7 linked regions of the Homo sapiens genome follow. The protein of the gene in region 1 purifies or fractionates together with the protein of each later gene. This does not show direct contact. Each region holds a gene or a part of one and is shown on either strand. Other genes may lie near its edges.

Region 1 (4,349 bases):
TTATCAGTCTGAATAAGTAAAACACATATAGCCTATGATAACATCCTTTAATTATCTTCTTAAACACAGATACTTTCTATATATTACAATCATTTTAATAAACCTTTCAGTCATAATTTTGTGGAGTACAAAGTCATTTTATCAGTATGTTGATTTTTTTATGAACTACTCTTTAGAAAGTGATGTTAAAGCCTATTGACTATTAAATCACTACTGTTTATTGATACGTTGTAAATGTAAAAAAAGGAAAAAACCTGAAATCACAGAAAATGCTTGGCATCTACACAAACACATTCTCAGTGGACTAACCACTACTGTGTAATTTTGTCACTACAGGTCTTGCTCCATACTTTTGCTTCATGCAGTGGGTTCAACAATATCCATGTTCGTTCCAAACAGGGCAACTAACTGTTCTTCATAGGTAGCGATGTTCCTTTTCATAATTTCCATGCAAGGTCCCAGAAGCCTTTCAAATGCTTGCACATCCATTGCTGAGAAAAGAGAAGATTTTTTTTTAAATAACATTCTTTGCAAATCTGCAGAATTTCTAAGTCATTTACAATACCGACTCCATATATATCAATAGTGCAATGATATTTTAGGTAAATACTATAAAATACAAGAAAAAGCATAATGATAAAAATGTTCCACTTGAAAAAGGAAGCAGCCAGGGCCACGCTCTTGGACCACACTCTGCAGTCCCTCGGCAATATGATGAGCAATGCTAAGTTGGTGGGAGGTTCCTGGTCCAAGCTGAGAAAAGAATGAGGGACTATCATGGAAAGACCTTAGAATTTTAAAAAATAAATGTGCTGTCTCCACCTTAGCAATGTGAACTCCTCAAGGGTGGCACAAGAGTGTTTTCTATCCTGTGTTCCCTTCTCAGGGTTTAAAATGCCATGTTGTGAAGGCCAAGTGTTAACCTTTTGTAAGTTTTGCTGCCATACTATGTCTATGCAATCCAAAAATGGCAGCTGACATAATGCTTTTGTTTACTTCTATAAGTACATGCTAGAAATCACTTTGCTTGCCTGTCTCCTGGATTTTAAAACTGGATTTATAATATATAAATAGAAAATATGATCATACTCTATACATAAAAGTACAAATTAAAATAGATCTTCTTTGCCTTTTACACTAAAGATAAAAAGATAAAAAAGGCAATGTTTACAAGAATAGGGTGAATGGGCATTATGGCACTGCTAGTAGTGTACAAATACAAGTAATCTGGCAATATGTGTCAAAAGTTAATTTTTTAAAAACCCACTCCTGAAAACCATTTCTAAGGAAAACTCCTATAATACAGAAAAGTCTTCTATGCACAAAAAATTGCTCCCCACAAAAAAGTTGGAGCCAAAACCTTCGAAGTATTTACCACTAAGGAATGATTAATTTATCGTGTATATATTTACCTAAAAGAATTTTAAAATTTGGTGTAATAAAATAAGAACATTCCTAAGCGATAATGAACTTTAAAAGTTGTTTGGAAAACTGTTTAACAACTGGAAGCCCACACAAATAAAAAGGACAAGAAGGAATTATAATAGCAGAAATCACTGAGTGGCGGTGTTATGTTTTTTCTACATTTTCTGTATTTCTCAGGTTTTCTTTGATGTGAGTATAATAATCTATTATTGAAAAAAAATTAACAGACTTTCACTCACTCACCTTTACTCTTTCTAATAGACTTTCACTCACTCACCTTTACTGTAATAGACTTTCACTCACTCACCTTTACTATTTCTAATAGACTTTCACTCACTCACCTTTACTCTTTCTAATAGCCCTACTTAGGGAAATTACCTGCCAGTTTCTAATCGTCTTCTCTTCCATCCAAATTTAACACTTGATTAATATTATACTTATTTAAACCCTTTTAAAGAATGACTTCTCTAAGAAGTTAATTCTAAGGATCCTTGCAAATCTTAAAAACATTAAGTTTATGCTATTGAATTATGGATGAAAAGCACAGAGAGGGTAATAACTGTGAGATCAATTTTCTTAAAATACCCTCCATATTGCCACCTTCTAAACTGTATTTTCTTATCAAAGTAAGTGATTTCTCAGATATATAATCTCAGATATATACAGATGCCTGCACCTGAAGATGACATTTCTGCCAAGCTACTCTGGTAAAATAGTAATAACAACTGAACAGCAAAGAACATTTGACTGTGCTTTGACAAACCTGAACCTTTGTGTCCCAATACTGTAATGAGTAAGGATTCTCACAACATCTCAGCATTCCCCGCAGATCTTAATAACGGACTTTATAAAAATAGTACTTTAGCCTTCTCTTTTGAGGAACATAGCACATGTTGCTTATTTGAGAGATTCCATATAAAACGTGGTACTTGGAACTCTTATTTTAATGACTAATATGGGATGTTATTTCATATATACACAAGAAGAGCAAAATGTATCTGGATGTAAAAATTTCGAAGAAAAAATGGCTTCCACAAATTGATTTTATAAGGCAATGAGTCCTAATCTTGTTACCTTTTGTGGGGACCACAAAACCTGTGAACCCAATAAAATGATTCACTCAACATGAATACATAAAATGCAGACATAAGTTCAACCAGCAGAAGCACGCCCACTGTTGCAATCCCTACCTAAACATTTGACAGTCCCAATGGCGTGGGCAGAAGCTGCTCGAGGTTTGTTAGTTACCAGGGCAAGCTCTCCAAAGTACTGTCCCCGCGAGCATCGAGCGATTTCTACTGCACCATTCTCTTCCACTTCTGATTTACCCTGACAAGGCAATTAAAAAGATGAGCTTTTCCTCAGCTTATGAAAAATAAAATTAACCTCAGTCTAAACATCAAAAAGTAGATCTGTTGTGTTCCTTGCTAACAGTATGTGGGTTCTGAGGACTTAGAATGCTTACCTTTCTTTTCATAGTAATTTTCACTTCTCCAGATTCTACAATGAAAAAAGAATCAGCCGAATCTCCCTATTGGAATCAATAACAAAAACAGACGGTGAAAATGCAAATTAATTGACAACAATCTTGTTACCTTTCATATCCCTAAAATTGATCCAACCCCAAAGTACACATATTCACCTGAAAAGTGAAATCCTAAGGGAACAAGCTGTCTCGGTTTCTAAATCAAGAGGTTTTTTTTTTTTTTGAGACGGAGTCTCACTCTGTTGCCCAGACTGGAATGCAGTGGCGCGATCTCGGCTCACTACAAGCTCCACCTCCCGGGTTCACACCATTCTCCTGCCTCAGCCTCCTGGGTGGCTGGGACTACAGGCGTCTGCCACCACGCCCGGCTAATTTATTTGTATTTTTAGTAGAGACGGGGTTTCAACGTGTTAGCCAGGATGGTCTTGATCTCCTGACCTCGAGATCTGCCTGCGTCGGCCTCCCAAAGTGCTGGGATTACAGGCGTGAGCCACCGAGCCCGGCCCTAAATGAAGAGGTTTTGATGGACAATTATGTAGTAATGATTTCATTTGTAAAATTATTTGAAATAATACTTTCTTTTTCCCCCCCAAGATGGAGTCTCGCTCTGTCACCCAGGCTGGAGTGCAGTGGTGCAATCTCAGCTCACTGCAGCCTCCACCTCCTGGATTCAGGCGACTCTCCCACCTCACCCTCCCAAGTAGCTGGGATTACAGGCATGTGCTACCACACCCAGCTAATTTTTTTTTCCTTTTTTTAAAATTTTACTTTAAATCAGGGATACATGTGGAGAACATGCAGGTTTGTTACACAGGTATACATGTGCCATGGAGGTTTGCTATACCTATCAACCTGTCTGGTTTTAAGCCCCGCATGCATTAGGTATCTGTCCTAATACTCTCCCTACCTTCACTCCCCACCCCCTGACAGGCCCCGGTGTGTGATGTTCCCCTCCCTGTGTCCATGTGTTCTTATTGTTCAACTCCCACTTATGAGTGAGAACATTCGGTGTTTAGTTTTCTACTCCTGTGTTAGTCTGCTGAGAATGATGGCTTCCAGCTTCATCCATGTCCTGCAAAGGACATTATCTCATTCTTTTTTATGGCTGCATAGTACTCCATGGTATATATGTACCACGTTTTCTTTATCCAGTCTATCACTGATGGGCATTTGGGTTGGTTCCATGTCTTTGTTATTGTAAATAGTGCTGCAATAAACATATGTGTGCATGTGTCTTTATAGCAGAATGATTTATATTCCTTTGGGTATATACCCAGTAATGGGTTTTCTGGGTCAAATGGTATTTCTGCCATTAAAAAGTGGGCAAAGGATATGAACGGACACTTCTCAAAAGAATCAAAAGAAGATATTTATGCAGCCAAAAAAAAAATGAAAAAAAGATCATTACTGATCATTAGAGAAATGCAAATCAAAACCA
Region 2 (4,349 bases), on another chromosome or scaffold:
TCTCACAGCAAATCTCTCTATGGATTTACAGAAAGCAAAAGTAGATTAATGAGCTGGGGGAGGGAAGAGTGAAGGAAAGGCACACTGCTAATGGGTCTGGGGTTTCTTCTTAGAGTGATAATGTTCTGAAATTAGAGCCTTAGTGGCGATGGTTGCAGAACTCTGTAAATCTATTTAAAACCAATGACCTATGCACTTTATTTGATTGGGTGGATTTTATGGTATGTGAATCATATCCCAAAACAAACTATTCTTAAAACAAAAAAAAAATGTTGATTGAACCTTTTATTCTCTTATTTTTTTTTTTTTGAGAAGGTGTCGTGCTCTGTCGCCCAGGCTACAGTGCTATGGCACAATCTTGGCTCACTGCATCCTCCGCCTCCCAGGTTCAAATGATTCTCATGCCTCAGCCTTCCAAGTAGCTGGGATTACAGGCACCTGCCACCACGCCCGGCTAATTTTTTTGTATTTTTAGTAAAAACAGGGTTTCACCATGTTGGTCGGGCTGATCTTGAACTTCCGACCTCAGGTAATCCACCCACCTCAGCCTCCCAAAGTGCTGGGATTACATGTGTGAGCCACCGCGTCTGGCCTATTGAACCTGTTTTTTCATTGCTGAAAACGATATACTTCATAATTTAGACAGTTACTATTGAGCTATAAAGTAAAAATCTCATTTTGGCTATCAGTTTTTATATAAAGAAAGAAGAGTCAGGTTTAAGAAGGGTTTATAGGCCGAGTGCCATGACTCACATCTGTAATCCCAGCACTTTGGGAGGCTGAGGCAGGTGGATCACTTGAGGCCAGTTCGAAAACAGCCTGGCCAACATGGCAAAACCCCATCTCCACAAAAAGTACAAAAATTAGTCAGTCATGGTGGCGCATGCCTGTAATTTCAGCTACTCACAGCTGAAATTAGGCAGGAGGCGAAGGCAGGAGAATCGCTTTCACCCAGGAAGCAGAGGTTGCAGTGAGCTGAAATCACACCACTGCACTCCAGCCTGGGTGACAAGAGCAAAACTCCATCTCAAAAAAAAAAAAGAAAAAGAAAAAGAAGGAAAGAAAAAAAGAAAGAAAAGGTCTATAGATCCCCTTTTGTGATAGCTCAGATTTTGTGACAATTTAAGCTTACTGACAAATCTTAAAGCCTTGTGCTCAAGGGGAAAATGTTTTTCAGCATAATCTATAAGAAAACATGTAACAGCCCATTCCAAAACTTTGCTGTATGGTATATACCATTTATGAAAGCTTAGCTGCAGCAACATAAACACATTTATATAACAGCACAAGAGGGAAGGGGGAAAATACTATTTTGCCCACTTACCCTCAAATAAAAGACAAAGCCATAAATAAGACACAGCAGAACAGGATAAACACATTTTGTGCCCTTATAGACTTACTGATGCCACTTACCGCCTGGGTCATTGGGCCTTGCTTCATCTTCAGTGTAGCAGCTATGCTCCCTACAGCCACTTCTTCAGAAATTGAACTTGCTCTAAAATCCACTTCATCTTCAGCTTTCACGTCTGGCATTTCTGAAAGTGCAGGGGGGTTACAGAGTACATTTTTAAAAACTGATTCCTGTGCCTTACTATTCATACAACATGCTCCAGGTTTCATGTGTTTTGTTTTGCTTTTGCGTTAAAATGGAAAAGTATTCTTTTGTTGTCAGCGGCTAGTGTCATTTCTGACCCTATGCTGAGCTATTCCTTTATCGCATGGTTACTGGTTTTCCCTAGCCTTTGTAGGCGCTTGGAACTAAGCGAGGATCCAATTCAATGTCTTTTGAACATCCATTTCACTATTGACTTTTTATGACAAATCTGAGTGTAGCACCAACTTGCATATGGAAAACTAAATTCATAAGCTTCAGGGGAACAGATTAATAGCTGAAGCTAGGTAGTCCATCTTGGCCATCATCAAAAAAGCAAGGATTTGTACAAAACAAAAAGGAAAAAGCCACTGAGAATGAGAAAAAGCCTCTGGGACAAGTATGACTTTCACTAACATACAACACACTCTGATCCACCCATCACTGTAACCAGTAAGAATGAACTACTCAGCAGTTACGTCTTATTTTTAACCCTTATTTCTTCCAAAACTGAAACCTAATCACAGACTAGCTATCCCTTTCTTAAGAGAAACGTTTCTGCGCATGTTTTCTCAAGAATTACATAGTTGTCCTCTTGCTGGCCATGTTGACAGACCAAAAACAGTGGTGGTTTTTGTTACCTGACCACCACATGGTCAAGCAAATACAGGAAGGAAATGATAAATGATGTCTGAGGCAAATTTAGGCTTCTGACACTTCTTTAAACGGGACTCATGATTGAACAGTCAAAATTCACCTTAATAATCCAAATGCAAATGGAACTGTCATCTCGATTTCATGTGGAAATGCATCTGTGGTTATTAACCTAGTGATGCCACTACTCTGGCAAGAAAAATGCTCCCCACACTAAAGAGCACAGAAGTTTCTTTCACCAAAGAATAAATTATATTAAGATTTTATTCTAGGAGCACATGACATGTACAAAAGTCTACCTTAAATTTGTAAGAGTTACATTTCTATAGATGAACCTCTTTTCTTCCTTCTTTGACCTTATAATTATATAATCTTACCAGCAGTTTAAAAATGGGTAAACAAGTTTCCTTGCCCAAAGAACCAAAATCTGTGTTAAATTTCATAAAATGTTATTAAAGTTAAAATCTGACTAAGCAATCCCCTTAGAACTATCCCTTGATCAAAACATCTCTAAGTGAGTCAGAGTAATTTCTGGGGGGAAAGAGGGTTGCTTTCCTCTGGGGATGTGATTTTTGGTACCTCCTTCCTTTCCTATACCTATCAACTTTGAAAAGATGCATCTTGGCACAGCAACCAGTCACACTAGAAAACAGTGATTACTCACACTTGACGGGTGTCGGCAGCCTCTGCAGGACTGGCGTGGCTCAGTCATGCATCACTGATTTCCTAAGCACTGTGGTCAATGCTTTTGGTGGGTCAAGGGCCACATCCCCTTCTTTCAAACTGGCTCCTTCCAAATCAGCAGTTAAACCTATGTCTTCTCACTCACAAAACAGTATGATTAAATCTATGAGTAGAATGTAAACTTGATAGAAAATACCCTTTGGCTCTGAGATCACACTCAGGTGCTTTTTCTCTAAAGTAATGTGACCAGGGATTTTCCCAATCCTGGCCATTTTCTGAAGAAAGTACCAATTTCTTCATGACTGGCTACTTTCTCTGTAGTCTGAGACCATCAATACAGAGTTCCTCTGCAGTTTGAGACCATGAGTATGACTCCTTTTGGTAACAGGACAAGTAACTCACCTACACAAAATTTACCAACCTCAAGCCCATATATACTGCTGAAAGTCCATACATTTTTCTTCCTTCTCAAAACCTCAAAATCCTAAACATCCGTCATTTCTCACCATCTTTACTATATGTGCTAATAAAAATCAAAGTCTGAAATTCTCCCTGGTTTTTACTTTTTCTCATAGGATACTACAGACACAATCCCCACAGAGTTCACACTTGCTTGAGTCAAATTCTGACCACTGAGCCAGAAAGAGAAATAATTCCGGCCCATGTGGCCAAGGACGCAGCACCGAAATGAAAAGAACATCACCAGGCATCAGCTTACAGCCACTCCCATTCTTCTGAAATGCCAACCTGCCAGGGCCCCCAAAATAGACTTGTTGTTGTGGCTTTTTTTAAAAATTAGAGACCTCATTTAAATCCTGAGACAACAGCCAGCAAGTATCTATCACTAACAATCCAAAACATTAATAAAACTAAAAAGCTAAAGTCATCAAAAATTCTACCTCGGATTCCTTAAATCCCTCAACTGGGGAGGAAAAAGATTATAAACGGCTAAAAGCCCTTTACCAGGGAAAATAACCACTGTATTTAAATTGCGCTTCTTCCAAAGCAACTTCTTTTGCTCCATTGATTCATTTCTCTCCATAACCCTCCCCCACATTCTTAATACATATGTGTAAAGGGATTTTCAAAAATTGAAAAGAACAGCAAAAATAAACAATAAAGACAAAACAGGCTGCTTCTTACCTACAAAAGCCTAGGGGCAAGCATGGAGATAGGTCTTCTGTCTACAGCTGGTAACAGGTGGTGGTATAGAAGTGTGCATCAAACTGACCTTTAAAGACTTCAGGAGCCAAGATCGTGTCCGACTCCCGTTTCAGCTTCAGCCTCAACCCCCGTTAAGAAGTTTTATTCAGATAGTTTATTTCCACGGAGCAATAGCGGTTTCTCTTTGCTGCCTCGGAACATGGTTACCCACAGATGGAACAGGCTGCTGTGTGAGCAATCTGCTCAGTGCAGCTGC
Region 3 (4,349 bases), on another chromosome or scaffold:
GAGAGATTGAGGAAGGTGGGGGTAGGGATGAAAGAAGGAACAGAAGATACTGAGGTGCGTCTGTGCATTCAACATCTCAGCACAAGTTACAAATACAGTTTGGAGAGATACGCACTGATAATGAAAGAACGTTTTCACCTAAAGATGGGACGGGTGGGGTATGAGGCAAGATTTGGAACTAAGGGCTTTGGGATTTTTGTTTGTTTGTTTTTCAGAGAGTTTTGCTCTTGTTGCCCAGGCTGGAGTGCAACGGTGCAATCTCGGCTCACTGCAACCTCCGCCTCCTGGGTGCAAGCGATTCTCCTGCCTCAGCCTCCCAAGTAGTTGGGATTATAGGCGCCCACCACCACGCCCAGCTAATTTTTGTATTTTTAGTAGAGATGGGGCTTCACCATGTTGGCCAGGCCGGTCTCGAACTCCTGACCTCAGGCGATCCACCCGCCTCGGCCTCCAGAAATGCTGGGATTACAGGCATGAGCCACCGTGCCCGGTCTGTTTGTTTCTGAAACAGGTTCTTATTCTGTCTGCCAGGCTGGAGTGCAGTGGTGCAGGTAAGGCTCATGCAGCCTCAACTTCCCGGGCTCGAGCAATCCTCTCACCTCAGCCTCCCAAGTAGCTAGGACTACAGGTGCATGCCACCATGCCTGGCTAATTTTTATTTACTGTTATTTGTAGAGACAGGGTCTCACTGTGTTGCCCAGGCTGGTTTTGAACTCCAGGGCTCCAGCAATCCTCCCGCCTCATCCTCCCGAAGTGCTGGGATTACAAACGTGAGCCACTGTACCTGACCTGGGCTTTGTTTTTGGAGAGGACTCGGAAGACACCAGCATGCCCGTGTTCCCATGAGCACATGAGCCTTCACCAGTAGAAGACACCCAATAGAATCAGGAGCATAAAGGTCTTCAACCATGACCAGGACCCGTGCCAGTTTTGTCTCATCTGATCATGATGCTATCACAGATGCTCCCCTGCAAGCTCATTCAAATGAGCTGCACCCCGCTGGTATACAAAGAAAACAAAATGAGGCCCAGGAAACCTTCCCTGAGGACAGGGAAGGATGCTCAAGGTCGACCGGATGGTCTTGTCTGCTAGCACAGGCCATTCCACCAAAACAATGTAGAATGAAGGCAAGGACGTGGGAGACAGCTTGCAATGACACAGAGATTAATGCTAAGAAAAATCATAGGCTGGGCACGGCGGCTCAATGCCTGTCATTCCAGCACTTTGGGAAGCCAAGGCAGGAGGATCACTTGAGGCCAGGTGTTGGAAAGCAGCATGAGCAGCACAGCAAGATCCCGTCTCTACAATAAAAGAATCAGCCAGGCATGGTGGCATCCCAGCAATTCGGGAGGCTGAGGTGGGAAGATCATTTGAGCCCAGGAATTGGAGGCTGCAGTGAGCTATGATCACAACATCACTGTACTCCAACCTGGGTGACAGAGCAAGACCTCATTTCTAAAAGGAAAAAAAAAAAAAAATAGACACATGCTACTGTGAATTTTAAATGAACATTTATTTGACTAATCACAATGTTTTTATGTATTAGCAAAAATATGGGCCTCTTATAAAAAAGGCTCTTACCTAACGCACTTTTAAATTTGCAGATTCTGCAATGATGCTGGAGGTGGGGGACTAATGACCCACACATACAGGTTGCAGGAATGCCTTCTGCTCTCCACCTTGCTGCTGGATTCCTGCCCCTCAGCAGCTGGGTGGCTGAAGGGAGCTCAGGAAGCTCAGGGTTAGACATTTCTTCTGTTTTTTTTCCTTCAGTTACTGAAGGCTGTGCACCTGTGTCCCACCTCTCCATTCACTTCTTATAGCTCAGCAAGTTCAAAATGTGTGGTCTTGAGGCATAAAGGGAAGCAGGGACACTATATGAGGAAGGAGAAGTATTTTGTTGGAGTGGTGTTTTTTTTGTTTTTTTTTTTGTTTTTTTTTTTTTTGAGACAGTCTTGCTCTGTCACCCAGGCTTGGAGTGCAATGGCACGATCTTGGCTCACTGCAACCTCCGCCTCCCGAGTTCAAGTGATTCTCCCGCCTCAGCCTCCCGAGTAGCTGGGATTACAGGCGCATGCCACCATGACCGGCTACTTTTGGTATGTAGTGGCTGTTTTCCAGAGCAATCTGCTGGAGTTCTAAAAGACCCAGCACATACCCACATTCCTTCCATCTTATCACTGACATCTCGACTCATTTTCTCCCAGCTAAATGCCCTGTTTTTCTGCTTTGCACCGTTATTGGTTGGGCAAGAGTGTTCCTCTCAGTAATATTTCGTGATTAAGCACATGGCATCTCAAATGCATGACAGTCAAACTGTACTTTTGTGGATGAGCTTAGAAGACAACCATGATTTCATGATTTCACTGTTCTGGTGGGGAAATATTTTCCAAGGTCCAAATACTATCGTACTAGTGAACTTTTACAATAAACTTCTGTGTCAGCTGGTGACTTTCTAAATTTCTTCAGGGCGCAAGGTGGAAGGAAAATTTAGCTACGACTGACCAGCCAAGGTGTGATACTGAACATTTGGGGGTAACACTGAGCTCTTGAAAATACCATTAATAGTCAAAGCAATAGCAAGACCACTGTCTACAACTGTTAATTTGGTTGAAGAGAATATACATGGCTCTACTTCCCTATGGCTCAAATATGTAAGAAAAAGATGGACGCATGCTTACACACACACATACAAACACACTCTCTCTCTCTCTATCAATTAGCTTGCAACACATTTTTGGATATATCCTGTATCCTCCCCCATCTACCTCACTCTGGGATAATAATCTGCACAGATCCTCTTAAGAATAATGCATCACCTTGTCACAATGTAGCAGCAGGTCACCTTTCAGGAGCATCAGAGATAATTAACCATGGTGGGAGATTAGAAGGATTTGGGTAGGTTAGAAGCAAGGAATGAAAGAACTTTGAGGATTACACAGGCATGTAGAATACGCAAGCCCTGACAATACAAACATCTCAGGTTCGGTCACTTGGCTTGCAGGGGAAGTTGCAATTTCAACCATGGGTAGGATGATCTGTAGAGGAAGAGAGTTAGGGCTTTGTATCAAATGAGAAGAGGAGGGAAGGGACGAGGAGAGGAGGGGAAGGAAGAAGAGGTGGGGAGAGGAGGAGAGAAAGCAGGGGAGAAAAAGTTACTGCACGAGTGGGGAAAACTACTGAGATGTGTAAGGTTGTATGAAAATACATCTGTTCCACAAGTGTCTCAGTAAAATCAACATCAACAAACCACAAGGCTTAATAAAGTCACCTTATCAGTATATATGAAATGGAGACATCATTTTTACCTATACACTAATGCGGGATCACCCTTCAGCATCTTTAAGAAGTAACAGTTTACAAAGAGAGTTAGCAAGTAAAAACATACTCCTTTAAGAAAAAGAAAAATCTAGATAACTGGGATTCTCTTGCCCTTCCCCAAACCAATAAGATTAAGTAAATATTATAAGAAAAAAGAAGTTCTCTGACACATCCTTCCTTCAAATCTTTTATCAGTAAGACTTTGCAGGCGAGTGTGGTGGCTCACACCTGTAATCCCAGCACTTTGGGAAACTGAGGCAGGAGGATCACTTGAGACCAAGAGTTTGAGACTAGCCTGGGCAAAATAGGGAGACTCTGTCTCTGCAAAAAATAAAAAGATTAGCTAGGTGTGGTTGTGCAGGCCTGTAGTCCCAGGTACTTAAGAGGCTGAGGCAGCAGGACAGCCTGAGCCCAGGAGTTGAAGCTATGACTGAACCTCTGCACTCCAGCCTCAGTGACAGAGCCAGACCCTATCTGGAAAAAAAAAAAAAGACTTTGCTTACGTGGACAGAATTTGTACAGAGCTGGGTATCACTAAAGATAAGGAACAAAATGTTGAAAGAGATACTGACTTTACTATCTCCAAAAAACATTCACAAAACTTAAGTCATCATGTGCAGGGGCTGTGGGATAGGACGAGTTTAGTGACCACAGGTGATTTCAAATCTGAGCTTAGAAAATTAGAAACCAATGCATCAGTTCAATGATTCCAGTTACCTGAGGGACTCTGCCCCTGACATCAAGTCTATAAAAGTTCAAAAGCAATAGAAGATAAGAGGGTTTATCACAATGGATATGAGAAGTATGTTCAAGATCTAACACTTACTGTACATACTAGCCTCAGCAATCAATGAATTCATCAACACATTAATCAGTAACTCACCAGCCACATTCTTTATTGGTTTCCAAATGTTTTGGACAAGGGCCCCTTATGTGCCAAGTAATGTTCTCGGTACATAGTATCAGGAACGGCAGATCTTGTGACTGTCATGAGCTTTGCAGGCTTGATGTGGAACAGACATTACATA
Region 4 (4,349 bases), on another chromosome or scaffold:
AGGCCCAGGGGGCAGCTCTCCTGCTCTGCCAGCTCCCAGACACCCACAGGCTGAGAAAGAACAAACAGCCATCTCAAAGAAGTATTTTCACACAGTTCACCTCAACACAGTGAAAACTCTCAAGCTGATGAAATAAAGACCACATGGAAAGGGGAGGGAAGAAAGGTAGAAGTCATTATGAATTTATTATTTACACGATTGTTAAAGTACACAAATACAGTGGCGATACAAACGCACAGCTCGGAGACTGGCCGTCAGTGCACAGCTGACACGACGTCCTACCTACGTCTCCTGCACGGGGCGACGGGGACTAGATACTGGGCAAGGACTGTCACAAGCACTCCGAAGACGCGACCCGGCGAGGCTCGGGCTGGAACCCGGGCGCAGAGCTGCCTCGCACAAACGTTCTGGGCACTACATCGGGACCACAGATATTTACAAAGCAAGCTTGCGCCACTTCAGGCCACAGCGCGACGTCTCTCCGGGTGGGGGACGTCTACCTTCAAGAAGGGGTCCAGCAACAAAGAAAATCTCTTAACTCGGCTCTGACCCACCCCAACCTCCCTCTGTACTTCAACACACAGCTCCCACCCGCTCAAGGCCCCGTACTCCAAAACGCTTACACAGTAACCAGCCTAGGATTGAGAAAGCATCCATGGGCTCAGGCAGACGGCCAGCCAGCTGGTGGGGGGGTGAACAACTGTGTTCTGGGACGCCAGCCAGTTATGGCATCCGGGGAACTCTGGGGAGGAGAAGGGAGAACCAAGGTGCACACCTTCGAAGCCCTAGAGTCCAAAGGGAACATCGTCCATCGTGATGGGGTCCAGCCGAAGTGCCCACGAACACAGACTGCCCTGCGCATTGGGGTTGGGAGCACATGGCCACTGGCTACCGCCCAAGTGCTGCGGAGTGAGAGGCGAGAAGGCATCCTGGGAACCTCAGGGCACAGCAGCATGGAGCCTGGGGCAGCACCAGCTCACGGAGGCCACCTGCCTTCTGGTGGGACTCGGCCCCACGCACGCTGCTTCACTTCTGACCAACAGACACGCGCCCAACAGAAGGTCACAGCGCAGACTCTACTTTCTGGCCGTGAAGGTTCTGGGTCCGGTTGGGAGAGTCACCTGCTCCTTGGCACCTCAGGGTGGGTCCTTCTGGCCTGCCGGCTTTTCTGAGCTAGTCTTGGCACGTGGCAAGGACAGCCCCGCTCCTGGTTTTAAGCACAGGCATTCATACAGACGGAGTGCCAATCCGCACAGGAGCATTGAGTGCTGAGAAAATGGACTGAGTGCAAAGGCAGCAAGGCAACAAACACTACAGTAACCACCTCTCGGTTCACAGTCCTCTCCCAAGGGACCAGAAACGCATCTTCCACCTTGAATCCTGGGACTCCCAATTGTCCTGCTAGGGTCTCAAAGCCTCTGCTTCCAAGCTCTCAGCTGCCTGCCCACCTCCTGGGGAAGAAGCGCGCAGTGCTTTGCCTGGTAACACCCACTGCACCCCTGCCCCGCGGCAGCCTGCGGTCCCTAACTGCTCTCCGAGGGCCTCAAGAGTTCCTGACAGCAGGCATGTCAATTACGGGAGGAGGGAGGGTGAGACGCCAAAATCAGGTTGAAGAGGTCCCACCACACACGGGCACACACACACACCACGGACTTTTGATGAGAAATCTCCTCTCCAAAGCGGACAATAAAACACTGCAAAACAAACACAGCACACACCCTTGAGATCCACCTGCACCTTCTCCCTGCCCGACTCCACCTCATACACTAACTCCAAGCCAGCCTGTCTCAGAATTCCTTAGTCAACATTTTTTTTGTAAGACTGCAAAAACAGACAAGAAACAATAAAAAGACAGATTTTCTTTACACAGATTTAAGCCAATAATTTTTAGCAAAATGATACAAAACTGTCTTAACCAAGTAGAAGATTGGTAGTTACAGTGGAATCGTCAGGGAGTACAGGGCGGCCACCACTGGAGGGAGCTGAGGCCCTGGAAAAGGAGTCTGATTCTCTGCAATTCTCTCTCTGCTTTTCTTCCCAGCCCCGTTACAACCGAGTTCACGTGGGGGGCCGCAGTGCAGCCCCAGCGGTGGCAGCTCTTGGAGTCTGTCCGTTTAGTATGTTTCCCCCACGAGCGTCGCTGGGTGAGTGGCCTGGAGAGCTCCCGGTGTTAACATTTCGATCCTAGACCGGGGGACGTGTCACTAGTAAAGCCATTGGTAACAGAGTAGATCAGCCATGCATTGTCTGCCCTTCACAGCAATAAGGAGAGTTCTCATCGGTGCACGACAGACTGAAGACCACTGGAAGCCACCCGACCAGGAATCTGTCGGAGCCAAAGCACAGGAGAAGGTCAGCATGGGGCTGGGGGAGCCGGCCAGGCAGATACCACAGTGACGGTGCTGGGCAGGGAGGGGACGCACCGCCACCGCCTAGCCCCAGTCTAGACGCCTGCGTCCCCCGCCACGCACAGGGGCCTCTGTGGCTGGGACACGTGCTCAGCAGAACGAGTGACAGGAAGACGGGAAGGAGGAAGAGGCATGCAAGCAAGGTGCCCGCGGAGCCGGGCTCGGCAGGGTCGAAGGATCCGAGTGGAGCGGAGACGGGTGCTCCTGCCTCCCTTCCTGGAAAGGAACCTGGTGTTTGAAAATGGGTACCCCTCTCAGGGAAGACATGAAAAGCAGTTCCTGTCAACACATTTCCAGAGTGTGCACAGTGTGAAAACTGCAGCGGGTCTCCCAGCGGCACAGACCCGACAGAAGCGCAAGCCCCTGCTGGAAGGAGCCGCCGAGCGCGCGTGGCCGCCGAGGAGGGAGCACAGCGTGGACGCCGGCCATGCACCGACGGCGGGGAGTGAGTGGGCTGCGGCTGGAGGAGTTAATACAGACGAAGCTGCGTGGACAAGACGGCTGGGCAGAGACCAAGTGTGAAAAGAAACACAAAACAAGGACAGAGATAAATGAGACAGGAAGAGAGAGGCGACTAGAAAAGCTGGCATGGCAGAGACTGCCCAGAGTGTGGCGCAGCAAGAGCTTAGGAGCCCCCAACACCAAGCGTGGAGCCACCCAGCTGAGCAGGACACAGACGCCCCTCCAGGCACGGCCGACCGCAGACAAGGCAACTCAAGTGCTCGGGGCACCCGCCTTGCCACTCCTGCCTCACGGGTGGGCACCCAGGACAGGAGGAGAGCAACGGCACACGGAACGCAGTCACGGGGAGGCCACAGGCCAACAGGATGGTCTCCTGGGGTCACTCTGTTCCAAAGCTCTCTGTGGACAGCCTCCCCCCAAGACTGGGCAGCGGACTGCCGCCGCTCTGCACCCCACAAGAAGAACAGAGCAGAAGAAGCCTCACTCTACCTCCAGCACCTGGCATGCAAGCCCAGCCCACCTGCAAGCTCCCATGGGTGGGGCATGGTGGCTCCCACCCACCTGGCGCTGCTGCCTGGCGCCCGCCACGCGCACACTCACCCAGTGCTGCCTTCCGATGGGAGACGAGCAGCTACTTGCCGTGGTGTTCGAAAGGAATGCTATTCTGAGGTGGGGAAAAGACAGCTGTTGGTAAGCGTCCCGCTGGCCCCCTGACTACCTGTGTCGGCTCCATGTCCAGATGGGCATCCTTGCCTCAACCAGGTCCACAGACCGACAGGTGCCACCTGGGGGAGCCCAGGCACAGAGCACAGCCTCACTTGCCTCTCAGGACGGGCCTCTGGATGAGAGTGGTGCCCACTCCTCTTCTGGAATCACTTGCTCTTAAGGCCAACAATGGCATGGGACAGGCCCTCCTGAGTCTTCTCAAGCACTAAGAAAACCTGATCCCAGCAGGATGGCAGGTGCTGGGCAGCCCCACAACTGGGTCTCAGGGCACAGCCTGAAGGCAGGGGAGACGCACATCCTCGCCGGTACGACGACAGGGCTCAGGCCTAGTCCTGGGCAGGAGTTGATCAAAGCGAGTCATCGACTGTTGGAATGACAAGGCCTTCTTCTCACCAAGTAAAAACCCCAAACAGACTCAGCAACTAGATGGCCTTTAGGGCCCAGGCTACTGTAGCCAAAGAGCCCTGGCCGAACACCAACAGCCCGAAAAGAGAGGGGGCGAAGAGGGAACAGACCCAGGCGGAGTCCGGGCTGGGGCGGGGCCCTACAACTATGGGGGCCTCTGTGACCTACAGGCAGGCTGCCACGTGGTCTTCCACCCATCCACACCCAGCCACGGCCAGCAAGCCCTGGGAGACCTTCCTGCTGCCTCCTCCCATCTCCACAGGGCGCAAGGTCTCCTGAGAGGAGCAGAAAGAACAGGGAAGAGCGACGGCCCGAGGAGGAAGACTGGCCGGGGATGAGTCACTGCCC
Region 5 (4,349 bases), on another chromosome or scaffold:
TTGTCATTATCCTAGTAAATTTTCTCTTCAGTTATAAATTGCTAATTCCACCAAATATTCTTTTGTCAATAGTTTTGTGAGTGCTTCAAGCAGATTTTCAAGAAACCTTTCATCCACTTCATGAAACTTTTCCCAAACTGGCAATTTTACTTTGAAGTTGATTTTGACTTTATTGTTTTTGACTGTTTTTATTTTTTTTTAATTTTTTGTTGTTTTGCGACAGAGTCTCGCTGTGTCACCCAGGCTGAAGCTGGAGTGCGGTGGCGCGATCTTGGCTAACTGCAACCTCCATCTCTTGGTTCAAGCGATTCTTGTGTCTCAGCCTCCCGAGTAGCTGAGACACAGGTGCACGACACCACGCTCAGATAATTTTTTGTTTTTGTTTGTTTTTGAGACAGAGTCTCACTCTGTCACCCAGGCTAGAGTGCAGCGGCAAGATCTCAGCTCATCACAACCTGTACCTCCCAGGTTCAAGCAATTCTCCTGCCTCAGCCTCCCAAGTAGCTGTAACTACAGGCGTGTGCCACCATGCCTGGCTAATTTTTGTATTTTTAGTAGAGACGGTGTTTCACCATGTTGGCCAGGCTGGTCTTGAACACCTGACCTCAGGTGATCCGCCCGCCTTGGCCTCCCAAAGTGCTGGGATTATAGGCATGAGCCACCACATCCACCCAATTTTTTGTATTTTTAGGAGAAACGGGGTTACGGCCATGTTGGCCAGGCTGGTCTTGAACACCTGACCTCAGGTGATCCGCCCACCTCGGCCTCCCAAAGTGCTGGGATTATAGGCATGAGCCACCACATCCACCCAATTTTTTGTATTTTTAGCAGAAACGGGGTTACGGCCATGTTGGCCAGGCTGGTCTTGAACTCCTGAGCTCAGGTGTTCCGCCCACCTCGGCCTCCCAAAGTGCTAGGATTACAGGTGTGAGCCAATGCACCCAGCCAGGTTTTTTTATTTTTTTAAATTAAATTTTTGAGACAGGTTCTGGCTGTGTCGCTCAGGCTGGAGTGAAGGCACGATCTCAGATCACTATAACCTCTGCCTCCTGGACTCAAGAGACTCTCCTGCCTCAGCCTCCTGAGTAGCTGGGACTACAGATGTGCGTCATTATGCCCAGCTAATTTTTTTGTATTTTTTGTAGATGGGGTTTCACCATGTTGCCCCAGCTGATCTCCAACTCCTGAGCTCAAGCAATCCACCCACAACAGCCTCCCAAAGTGCTGGGATTACAGGCGTGAGACACCGCAACCAGCTGATTTTGACTTTATTGTTGGGTCAGCAACAGAATGCCTGACAAAGACTCTGACGGAACAGGGAGATAAGTTAATGTTAAGCCAAGGTGAATATATGATAAAGGACTAATTTTATAAGTGATCCATTCATTAGCAAATATTTTCAGGCTATGAAGACATCTGCTTCCCAAACATGACTCTGTCCAGTGTAGATCTCAACTAATGAATATAGCACTTGGGTATTAAGGGCATTCTCCAGGCTTACCAGATATCATGGTTTCTTACCCAGTTTGTACTCATCGTTACAACCTTGACTTCGTAAACGCCTAATCAGCTCCAATTTAGCTAGATGTGGTCCTCGGAGATGGCGAGAACTTTTAGATTCTTCCGTTATCCGATCTTCTATAAACTTCACAGCTTTTTCTGCAGAATAATGTACTTCTCCTTCTAAAGAGCTGAGGAAAAGCACATGAAAAAGGAATTTTATTGCCTCTATTGTCCTTCCCGAAGCTTAAAGTCAAGCCAAACTCATTTAAAAAGAGAAAAACGACTTTGATAATATAAAATAATAGAAAAAGGAATAAAAGAGAACTATGAACATATTCTAACAGATAACATGTTATAAGATTACTCTCAATTTTGGCATTTGATTACTGCAGCATAACTTACCTTTTTAAAAAAAGAATGCATAATTTTGTATATATGAAATACTGCCTGGCTGGGCGTGGTGGCTCACGCCTGTAATCCCAGCACTTTGGAAGCCTGAGGTGGGCGGATCACTTGAGGTCAGGAGTTCGAGACCAGCCTGGCCAAGATGGTGAAACCCCATCTCTACTAAAAGTATAAAAAACTAGTCGGGCGTGGTGGCATGCACCTGTAGTCCCAGCTACTCAGGAGGCTGAGGCAGGAGAATCGCTTGAACCCAGGAGGGAGAGGTTGCAGTGAGCTGAGATCACGCCACTGCACTCCAGCCTAGGTGACAGAGAGAGATTCCATCTCAAAAAAAAAAAAAAGAAAAGAAAAAAAAATTGCCTAATAAAAATATAAGGCTGGGTGTGGTGGCTCACACCTAAAATCCCAGCACTTTGGGATGCTGAGGTGGGAGGACTGCTTGGGCCCATGAGTTTGAGACCAGCCTAGGCAATGCATGGAGACCCCATCTCTACAAAAAATTTAAAGCAGCCAATTGTGGTGGCACACACCTGTAGTCTCAGCTACTTGGGAGGCTGATGTGGGATGATCACTTGAGCCTGAGAGGCAGAGATTACAGTGGGAGGCAAGATTACACCACTGCACTCCAGACTGGGTGACAGAGCAAGACCCCATCTCAAAAAGAAAAAAAGGCCAGGCACGGTGGCTCACACCTGTAATCCTAGCATTTTGGGAGGCCAAGGCAGGTGGATCACTTGAGCTCACGAGTTCAAGATCAGCCTGGGCAACATGGTAAAACCCCATCTCTACAAAAAATACAAAAATTAGCCAGGCGTGGTGGCTCATGCCTGTAGTCCCAAGCTGCTTTTGGGGCTGAGGCAAAAGGATCACTTGAGCCCAGGAGGCAGAGGTTGCAGTGAGCCAAGATCACACAACTGCACTCCAGCCTAGGTGACAGAGTGAGACCCTGTCTCAAAAAAAACAAAAATTAAAAATTAAATACACACACACACACACACACACACATATATTTTTGAGATGGGGTCTTGTACATTTTATTGCTTTAAGAATGAAAACTGAGAAAAATTAGGTAACCTAGTTAATATTACGAAGCAAGCATCAGCTCATAACTGTCATCTTGAATTTTACTTCTGTATTAATTTTTTAAAAGATCCCATTTATTCACTTTTTTTTGAGAGGGAGTCTTGCTCTGTCGCCCAGGCTGGAGTGCAGTGGCACGATCTCGGCTCACTGCAAGCTCCGCCTCCCGGGTTCACGCCATTCTCCCTCCTCAGCCTCCAGAGTAGCTGGGACTACAGGCGCCCGCCACCACGCCCAGCTAATTTTTTGTATTTTTAGTAGAGATGGGGTTTCACCATTCACAGGATGGTCTTGATCTCCTGACCTTGTGATCCGCCCGCCTCCACCTCCCGAAGTGCTGGGATAACAGGCGTGAGCCACTGTGCCCGGCCCCATTTATTCATTTAACTCTAGATGCCTATAAAAAGGAAAAAAAATTTATTGTAGTACTGCCTACAATAGCCAATAACAAAAGGACAAAGGAAAAAAAAAGAGATCTTCAAAAATCCAAGTATCATCAATAGGGAAAATGCTAAATGAATTATGGTACATCTGGAGTACTCTTAAGCCACTGGGGGGAAAAAAAATGAAAGAGATCTACATGTACCAGAAATGAAAGATGTTCAAGATATATTTCAAGGCTGAAAAATAACAGGTTGCAAATCGTGTCTAATACAATCCCATTTTTATATTAAATATAAGAATAATTAAGCCGGGCGCAATGGCTCACACCTGTAATCCCAGCACTTTGGGAGGCTGAGATGCTGAGATGGGTGGATCACCTGAGGTCAGGAGTTTGAGACCAGCCTGGCCAACACGGTGAAACCCCGTCTCTACCAAAAATACAAAAAGTAGCTGAGCACGGCGGTGGGCACCTATAGTCCCAGCTATTCGGGAAGCTGAGGCAGGAGAATCGCTTGCTTCTGGGAGGCAGAGGTTGCAGTGAGCCAAGATCGTGCCATTGCACTCCAGCCTGGGTGACAAGAGCCAAACTCCATCTCAAAAAAAAAAAAAAAAAAAAAAAGGAGAAAAAGAAAAATTATCTTAGCATAAAGATGGAAATAAATCTCACGGAAAGGCACCAAACTATTAACAAGAGTTATTTTTGGAATGGTAGGATAAGTGGAAATTAGCACACCACATATTTTGGCACTAACATGATTTTTAGAATGAACTTGTGTATTTTATACTTTAAAAAATATGAAAAAATGTCTTACTTTGAAAGGAATACTTTATTGAGACAGAAAAAGAGAATTCAATTGGCTTATAATGAAATCCTTTCACTACACTATATTAAAAAGTGCTGTTATAATTCAGGAAAGAAGACAACTTACTGTTCACCTTCAGCAGGAGGACTCCAGGCCTCTTCAATCAGTCGAAAG
Region 6 (3,257 bases), on another chromosome or scaffold:
ATTCTCATACTTTACATTCATGCTTAGTATACTATAGAGGATGCCAGCTTTAATCTTTCTGTCATTTAAAGCAATATGATAAGGGTATTCAATAATTGGGTGCCCTAAATTTCTGGATGAGAAAATTTTCAATTCTGGCCATGAGAAAGAAAAAAAAATAAACAGCCTTCTTTTTTTTTCCTTTGTTTTAAAACTGTGGTTTTTTAAAAAAGCAATAATTAACTCAGACCTCACTAAAAATCATTTTTGTTTTTATATTGTTATGTCATAAGCTCTATTATGTTATTCTAACAAGTAGCAATTTCACAAAATTTGTATGTAGATGTTAACGCACATTTCCTTTGCTTCTTTTATTAGACTAGTGTTGACTTTGGGGGGGGACATTTATTCACAAATGAGAAGTAGGCACAAAGTAAAAAATGGAACCATCTACTAACAAGGATCCTTTAAAACTGCCAAGGGAGCTCTAACTTGAAGCCACATCCTACAGATGGCAGCCCAAATAGCACATGGGCAATTGGCACCATCTTTATATGGTTGAGTCTCCTGAATATTTTGAATGAATTCTCAACAAAATGTGCTAGCCACTGGGGACGCAAAACAAGTAAGATCCCTGTTGCAAGAAATTCATTTTATAGTGAGGGAGGTTGGCATGGAGACTAAAATTCTCAGGAAAATGAGATCCGTGTTAGATTAGAAGTCCTGATGTGAAATGGGAGGACTCAGGAAGGAGGATCGTCTTTACCTGAGGATTTCTAGCCAGAGGTCCCAGATGCCTGGGCTGAGAACCCAGCGATAAGGGGGCGTTCCCAAAGCAGACACAGGGATAAGAACAGAGGAGGCAGCAGCATTGCACAGCCCCAGGCACAGTGGCAGTTAGGATGGCTGGAGAGTAGGATAGTTCTATGGGTTGCCCAAAAAATGTGATGCGCTTCATGTTTTCTCTGACTCATGGATCTGGTAGAGACCATAGACATGATATAGACTAACTTCCCCATTTTTCACAAGAGGAAACCATCCTTATGACTTACCTTAAAGTTTTTTGTTCTGTTTTGAAGGAAACCATGTGCTTCATGAAACCTACAGTTGACAAGAGAATGTACAGCTAAGAGAAAAGCTTAAGAGGCCACACTATTCGCGGAATGGCTTTAGAGGCAGATGAAGTGGTCTTTGACCACAGTTGATTGAACCAGAGCACTTATTGCTTAAAGAATAACAGAGTTCTAGAGCTGGGGGTTCTTGGGCCATGCTCCGTGTGTGGATAAGGAAAGAAATACTGTTTCTGGGACTCTCCCACAGTCACAAAGCTGTTTTCACTGTGGCCCCTACATCTCTTAACTTTTGCTATTACTCCTATGCTGCCTTCCGGATTACTGCTGTCTATCTTCTTGCTCCACTCACTGAAGATCCTATTATAATCCCATGAAAATGTAAATTACAGTTTACTTGGGAGAGCCAGATTTTCTCTGTGCTCTTGAGTTTTTTATTCATTCAAGAAACCTTGGGCCACCGCTTTGTACATAGCACCGTGCTAGGCTCTGGGATCCCAAATGGACCCTTTTAACTTTCTGAAGATGGGACCGTCCCCTGGAGGAAAGTCATTCCTGCCTAATCCATCGAGAGAAAGAGGCTTACGAAAAACTTTGCCTCTGATGCTCAGCCCCACCCCCAAATAGCACACAAGCTTGTTAACCCCACCTCTTACAAAATGTTTAGATTCTGTAGGTGTTAAAAGCCTTTCTGGAAGTATTGCATTCTGCCGTGTTTATAGGTGTTCACTTTCCTCCAGAGCTGATTAACTACTGACATGACTTGGCTTTCTCATCCAGAAATTATGGAAACAGGGTCTGTCAGTGGCAGGAGGCCGTGCTGTGTTTTACTTGGATGACACAATGCAGTTTACTTGCCTCTTCATACCCATGCATGCTGCTCACCCTAGACAATGACATATAAGCCGTATATAGATCAATGTCCACATATATATACACACACACATATATATATATAAAGTGTAACAAGGAACACTAAAACAGTGTTGATTCTTGTCTCTGAAGACAAATAATTAAACCTTTTTTTTCCCAACTAAAGAATGGATTTAATTAAACTATGTATTGAAAAAAAAGTAGCCTAAGTGTTAGAGATGGTGAATATATTCCATTTTAGTTAAAGAACAAATTTCCTGAATTTTAAGCATTCAGTGAGCTGCCAATTTTGATTTTGTGTTGCTCTTTACCCAAATTATTTTTTCTTTGTTTTTCTTTTTTTGGGGGAGGAGGGGAAAAAAGCAGCAATACTGTGTTTGGAAATTATACTCTGTATCTGGTTTTCCTGTGTATGTTAACCACTTAAATGTTATTATCCTGCTTTGGTTTTAGAGTGATTGTGAGGCATTCAATGCAAGTATACAGTTATTTTCTCATTAAAATCCAATGTGTGTTGAGTTTTTATAAATAATGGCTGCTTGTTTGACCGTGAGGGAGGTTGGAAGACTGGGCCAAACAGTGGCACGCCAGCGTCCTACTTGGCCGCTACTGTGTGACAGCTTCTGGTTCCTCATGTTTGCAACAAAGGAATCAATCCGAGCTGAGGGGGCACTGCTGCACCAGGCTGTTCCCACAGCCCCCTTTTCAATGCTGTCCCCAGCCACCCTGGCTAGATGCCAGAAGCTGCAAGTGCCTCTTAAGGACATAGACTCGAAGCCACAGCAAGAGCTGGACAAACAGCAGGACGAACGGTAAACTCCAGCCTTGCCTGTAGCTTTTGGCTCTAACCTTTAGAATACATTATGAGCACCGGCCGGGCGCGGTCGCTCACGCCTGTAATCCCAGCACTTTGGGAGGCCGAGACGGGCGGATCACGAGGTCAGGAGATCGAGACCATCTTGGCTAACACGGTGAAACCCCGTCTCTACTAAAAATACAAAAAATTAGCCGGGTGCGGTGGCGGGCTCCTGTAGTCCCAGCTGCTCGAGAGGCTGAGGCAGGAGAATGGCGTGAACCCGGGAGGCGGAGCTTGCAGTGAGCCGAGATCGCACCACTGCACTCCAGCCTGGGGGACAGAGCCAGACTCCGTCTCAAAAAAAAAAAAAAAAAAAAAAAAAACCACATTCTAAGCACCTGTATTTGGCTCTCCTCTGCAAGGAATAGCTGATGGCTACATGTTGACATGAAGGACTCCTTTTGTTGTATTCAACATAAAGCCCCTTTCCCCAAACTCTTACTCTGGTTTCTTTATTTTCCTACTCTTCGACTACCCCC
Region 7 (4,349 bases), on another chromosome or scaffold:
CAGGTGAAACCTCACTAGATAGAATGTCCTCCTGTGAGCTGTCATCCTCATAAATGGGAGACAATGCTAAAGGATAAATTTTGTACCTTTTGGCCTCCACTGATAAGAACATTTCTGAACTATCACTATCAAATGTCTCACCTAATTTAGTACCTTTTTCAAAGTGATGGACAAGGTCAGTTCTACTCTCAGACCTTTCACATGCCAGAACAGGCATGCTGTCAGCGGACGTATCATGAAACAAGACAGACTGTGTTTGTCTTGCTTCTGCGGAAGCATACTTGTCCTCCTCTTGAAGGGGCTCTTCGTATAATATAGTAAAGGAAGAATTTTCTTGTTCATCTTGAGAAACAAAAGCTAAATTATATCCTTTGTCACTATAATCTGTCTCTCTCCTCTTGTCATATATTGCAGTAAGAGACATTCTTTTGTCTAGTCTTACTGTGGTATCCCCAGGTTGAAAATCTGGCATTGCTGGGGCTGGGTAGCCCTCATAATCCTTACTTAATGTAGGGGATTCATATCCCCTGAAATATGTAGGAAGTCTATTTTCATGTGCTATCAAGCCTTCCTTTATTTCTGTAGGCTCTTCCTTTGTTTCTTCAACACTCCCTTCAGCATACTCTTGTGGTGTTTTACTTTCAAATGCAGGAAGCATGGCCTCCCCTTGTTTAGTGGTCAATTCTAGTCCTGTTCCATGTATTTTCTCAATGTCTACCACTGCGGGTAACACTTTGTGTTTCCCAATATTCTCACCACGATCTTCTGGGGATATTTTTTCCATTTCTATCACAGAGGGTGTGGACACAGTTGCTCCAATAGTCTCTTTAACATCTCTCTTGCATGCTTTTTCCATTTCTAAGGGGGCAGGTGCTGTCTCGTGTGCTTCCTTCACTTTTAACACACACGGTACTATTTCAGTATTCTTAATGACCTCTTCAGCAGTCTTTCGGTAAGTAGCTTCCATTTTCAACACAGACCCTTCAGTGTTCCCGGTAAAACCTTTGGCATTTTTTTGGTAAGTATTTACTACCTCTAATGCAAGGGGCATCACCTCAGTTTTGCCACCGTCTCTTTCAGTATCCTTTGGGTAAGTATTTTCCATTTCTAACCTCACAGGCATCACTTCAGCCTTTCCAATATCCCCTTCAGCATCCTTTTGGTAAGTATTTTCCATTGCTAATGTAACGGGTATCACTTCAGCCTTTTCACTAATCCCTTCACCACCTTTTTGGTGGATATTTTCCACTTCTGACAAGGCTATCGTCCCAGTCTTGCCAATATCCCCTTCAGCATGCGTTTGGTAAATATTTTCCATGTCTACTGTAACAGGTGTCATCTCAGTCTTTACAATATCCCCTTCAGCATCCTTTTGGTGGATATTTTTCACTTCTGGCATCATAGGTATCACCTCAATTTTGCCAATATCCCCTTCAGTATCCTTCATCTTATAAGCTTTTTCCATTCCTAAAATGACAGCTGATCCCTCAGTTTTTTCAATACAGCTCTCGGCATCCATTTGGTATACTTCTCCCATTTTAAAAACATTAGCTTTTGGCTCAGTTTTCGTGACATTCAATTCAGCATCCATTTTATGTATTCTTCCCATTTCTATCATAGGAGGGACTGCCTCATATTTCAGAATATTCAATTCAGCATCCTTTTTGTTTGTTTTCCCTGTTTCTAACATGGAAGGTATAAGTTCAATTTTCCCTATATTTATTTCATTATCCTTCTTGTGTACTTTCCCTACATCTGACATTGCAAGAGGTGTGTTTTTACTGTGTCCTGGCAAGTTTTTTTCAGATATACATACAAGGCTATCAGACAAACTGCTTTTAGATGTACCAGGTGCATGGATGTCATCATTCACAAGTGGAGGCCATTTGAAATTTAATACAAGAGTTCTTCTGTCCTCTGTCTCAGTTTTGTTATTATCCACATTCTCTATTTCCATTGTCTCATTACAGTCCTCACTGCGAAATAAATGTGTTTTTACCCTATCATCTAACCGTTTATGTGACATGTCTTCAGCTAGTAAAACCGTATCTGATTCCTGCAAATTTATACTATCAGACAGTCCAGATCCATTTCCAGAAAATAGGGATTTTTGGTAGAGAACAATTTCTCCTCCCTTAATTGACTCTGTGCCACTAGCTAAGTTACTTAGGGAGAAGAATTCATTTAATACTTTATTTTCACTAATTTGTGTGCTTTGATTTACTGGCTGTTCTGAAACCAAGAACTCTCTAACTACATCATGTGGCTTAACACTATCACTGTTCAGAATTTTTGAAGTATTAGCCTGAAGTTCAGAATCCCAAGTATCCTCAGTATCTTCAAAAGTATCATTTCTCAATTTTTCTTGGGCTACATAAATAATCTCATTGACTAATTCCCTAGCTTTATCTTCTAACAAACAAGATACATTCATACTATTAGGATCAACAAGAAGATTCTTCTCACCAACTGTTGGTGAAACACAGGGCTTCTCTTTGACTTCTGACATGTTTTCCATGCCTTGCTCTTCCAAACCCTCTGTCTGTTGTATTTCTGTTAGTGTCACTTCTGATGGGTTTTTCTCAGAGATGTCTTCTTTCAGGGTACCCAGATTCATTATACCTTCTATGGCTATATGCTCCTGGCAGGTACTCACTGTGTGTTTGAATTTTAGTTCTTCCCTGACAGAATTAAAAATCTCACCAATCAATGTATCGGCCTTTTTGAGTAAACTACTTTTGAGGTCCAAAAGTTGGTCATGTGCTCTTCTCCTGGCTTCTATGTGCTCAGCAGAGGCTTCAGAACACTGTTGGCCTGAGCTGTTAACTGACGCTGCAGGCCCAGCAACTGCTCCAGTCTCTGCTTCCACGAGATTGTCAAATTGGGCAGCAGTTGGGAAATCAATGGATATCTTCCCAGTATAAATCCCAAAATGTTCCTGAAATGGGGTTACTTCTGTCCCAATTGAGACAGACGTTTCAAATTCCAAATAAGAGGTAGTAGGGTACAACAGGTTAGTTACAGAGGTACCTTCATGTGTGAGATCTTTGGTAACTTGTATAGAATCCAAATTATTTTGGGGCTTATGTGAATTTACTATCATGCTAACTTCTTCAGGGTAACTAGAGGAAGATGACACACTATCAATACCACCATTTAAAAAATGGATGTTCTCTTTCTTTCTGTAAGATGAGGATTTCTTTTCCAATTTCAGCACAGAAGGTACTTTAAGGAAGCTTGAGTCCTCAGATGCAGAAGAATTTTTTTCCAAACTGGAATCAGAATCCAGAAAAGGTGAATTTACTTTCATGCTGCCAGTTTCTTGGAATTTAGGGGAAATATTAGTTAAGCTGAGTTCCGCCATTTCTGAGTGACCAGAAATCTTTTTAGTCCCACAAATATCCAAAGATTGATGAAACACACAAGTGTGAGCTTCACAATTCTGCGCCATTTGCCTACTGATTTTTTCATCATGAATAGGTGGTAAAATCCAAGATATATTACTTTTAAGAAGAGCAGGAGGAGAGCCTAAGGCATCTACCTCTGGTTCTGGCTTATCTTCATATTTGGAGGCAGCAGGAGAAAGCTCAGCTTGGCAATTCTCTTTAAGGCCAGCATCTGAACATTTCTCTCCTATCTCATTATGATTAATTGATTGAAAACGTTTGCCCTGTTCAACTTCTAGAAAGGTTAATTCTGACAAAATAGGCTTTTCTGGAACATGGGTAATTTTCAATGGAAAAGAAGACATTTTATCCTGAGAAATGTTTCTGGGCTCCACTTTTGAAAGAGATACCTTGGACAAGGATATAGTTTTTCCTCTTCCAGAATGTGACTCCACAAGAACATTGTTCTGACCATCAATTTCAGCTTTTGATACAATGTTAGCAGTTTTGGCTTCCAAGGAAAGAGAATCAGACTTCTCTATTATGCTCATATTTGCTTTAGTGTTTGAAGACACTAACTCTACTCTATTAGGGTCTTGAGATAAAATGGAACTGCAATCCTTAGAGAGGTTTCCAGAGTCAAAGCTCAATAGCTCCAACCCAGTTAAGTGAGGGCCACTGGCTTCAGAACCTGGAAGAACCTGGCATTTTTCACTATTAGAAAGAACTTCTTTGAATTCAAAAATTGCAGATGTATATTCAAGGCAAAAGGAAGGAGGAGGACTCTTCCTGCCTGCAGCCTCAACATGGTTTTTCACATTTTCTTCTTTACACTTCCTAGGCTGATAGGAAATACCAACAATGTTGACATTCCCAGTTTCAATGGGCACAGGAGAACCCTCATTCATTAAATCAGGAATATCCAACTTGCTCAGCATCCCAACTCCAGAAACAAAGGTAGGA

What was found.
Region 2: the proteins of PRKAR2B (region 1) and AKAP13 purify together in Homo sapiens (affinity purification with mass spectrometry; 4 studies listed by BioGRID and IntAct, with this or other methods). This does not show direct contact.
Region 3: the proteins of PRKAR2B (region 1) and PRKX purify together in Homo sapiens (affinity purification with mass spectrometry; 4 studies listed by BioGRID and IntAct, with this or other methods). This does not show direct contact.
Region 4: the proteins of PRKAR2B (region 1) and CSNK1D purify together in Homo sapiens (affinity purification with mass spectrometry; 3 studies listed by BioGRID and IntAct, with this or other methods). This does not show direct contact.
Region 5: the proteins of PRKAR2B (region 1) and NAA25 purify together in Homo sapiens (affinity purification with mass spectrometry; 3 studies listed by BioGRID and IntAct, with this or other methods). This does not show direct contact.
Region 6: the proteins of PRKAR2B (region 1) and PALM2AKAP2 purify together in Homo sapiens (affinity purification with mass spectrometry; 4 studies listed by BioGRID and IntAct, with this or other methods). This does not show direct contact.
Region 7: the proteins of PRKAR2B (region 1) and CRYBG3 purify together in Homo sapiens (affinity purification with mass spectrometry; 3 studies listed by BioGRID and IntAct, with this or other methods). This does not show direct contact.

Annotation. Positions count from the first base shown.
Region 1 is NC_000007.14:107,155,591-107,159,939, reverse strand, and holds part of PRKAR2B (cAMP-dependent protein kinase type II-beta regulatory subunit), read right to left. Parts: intron 2,957-4,349; coding exon 2,891-2,956; intron 2,755-2,890; coding exon 2,616-2,754; intron 492-2,615; coding exon 358-491; 3' UTR 1-357. UniProt on the Homo sapiens protein: Regulatory subunit of the cAMP-dependent protein kinases involved in cAMP signaling in cells. Type II regulatory chains mediate membrane association by binding to anchoring proteins, including the MAP2 kinase.
Region 2 is NC_000015.10:85,582,888-85,587,236, reverse strand, and holds part of AKAP13 (A-kinase anchor protein 13), read right to left. Parts: intron 1,536-4,349; coding exon 1,414-1,535; intron 1-1,413. UniProt on the Homo sapiens protein: Scaffold protein that plays an important role in assembling signaling complexes downstream of several types of G protein-coupled receptors.
Region 3 is NC_000023.11:3,657,798-3,662,146, forward strand, and holds part of PRKX (cAMP-dependent protein kinase catalytic subunit PRKX), read right to left. Parts: intron 1,742-4,349; exon of another isoform or gene 1,690-1,741; intron 1-1,689. UniProt on the Homo sapiens protein: Serine/threonine protein kinase regulated by and mediating cAMP signaling in cells. Acts through phosphorylation of downstream targets that may include CREB, SMAD6 and PKD1 and has multiple functions in cellular differentiation and epithelial morphogenesis.
Region 4 is NC_000017.11:82,242,506-82,246,854, forward strand, and holds the end of CSNK1D (casein kinase I isoform delta), read right to left. Parts: exon of another isoform or gene 3,967-4,349; intron 3,961-3,966; coding exon of another isoform or gene 3,859-3,960; exon of another isoform or gene 3,693-3,858; intron 3,535-3,692; coding exon of another isoform or gene 3,502-3,534; exon of another isoform or gene 3,471-3,501; intron 2,327-3,470; coding exon 2,276-2,326; 3' UTR 162-2,275; downstream 1-161. UniProt on the Homo sapiens protein: Essential serine/threonine-protein kinase that regulates diverse cellular growth and survival processes including Wnt signaling, DNA repair and circadian rhythms. It can phosphorylate a large number of proteins.
Region 5 is NC_000012.12:112,070,374-112,074,722, forward strand, and holds part of NAA25 (N-alpha-acetyltransferase 25, NatB auxiliary subunit), read right to left. Parts: coding exon 4,302-4,349; intron 1,692-4,301; coding exon 1,522-1,691; intron 1-1,521. UniProt on the Homo sapiens protein: Non-catalytic subunit of the NatB complex which catalyzes acetylation of the N-terminal methionine residues of peptides beginning with Met-Asp, Met-Glu, Met-Asn and Met-Gln. May play a role in normal cell-cycle progression.
Region 6 is NC_000009.12:110,170,062-110,173,318, forward strand, and holds the end of PALM2AKAP2 (PALM2-AKAP2 protein isoform 3 (PALM2-AKAP2)), read left to right. Parts: 3' UTR 1-2,451; downstream 2,452-3,257. UniProt on the Homo sapiens protein: Binds to regulatory subunit (RII) of protein kinase A. May be involved in establishing polarity in signaling systems or in integrating PKA-RII isoforms with downstream effectors to capture, amplify and focus diffuse, trans-cellular signals carried by cAMP.
Region 7 is NC_000003.12:97,873,162-97,877,510, reverse strand, and holds part of CRYBG3 (very large A-kinase anchor protein), read right to left. Parts: coding exon 1-4,349.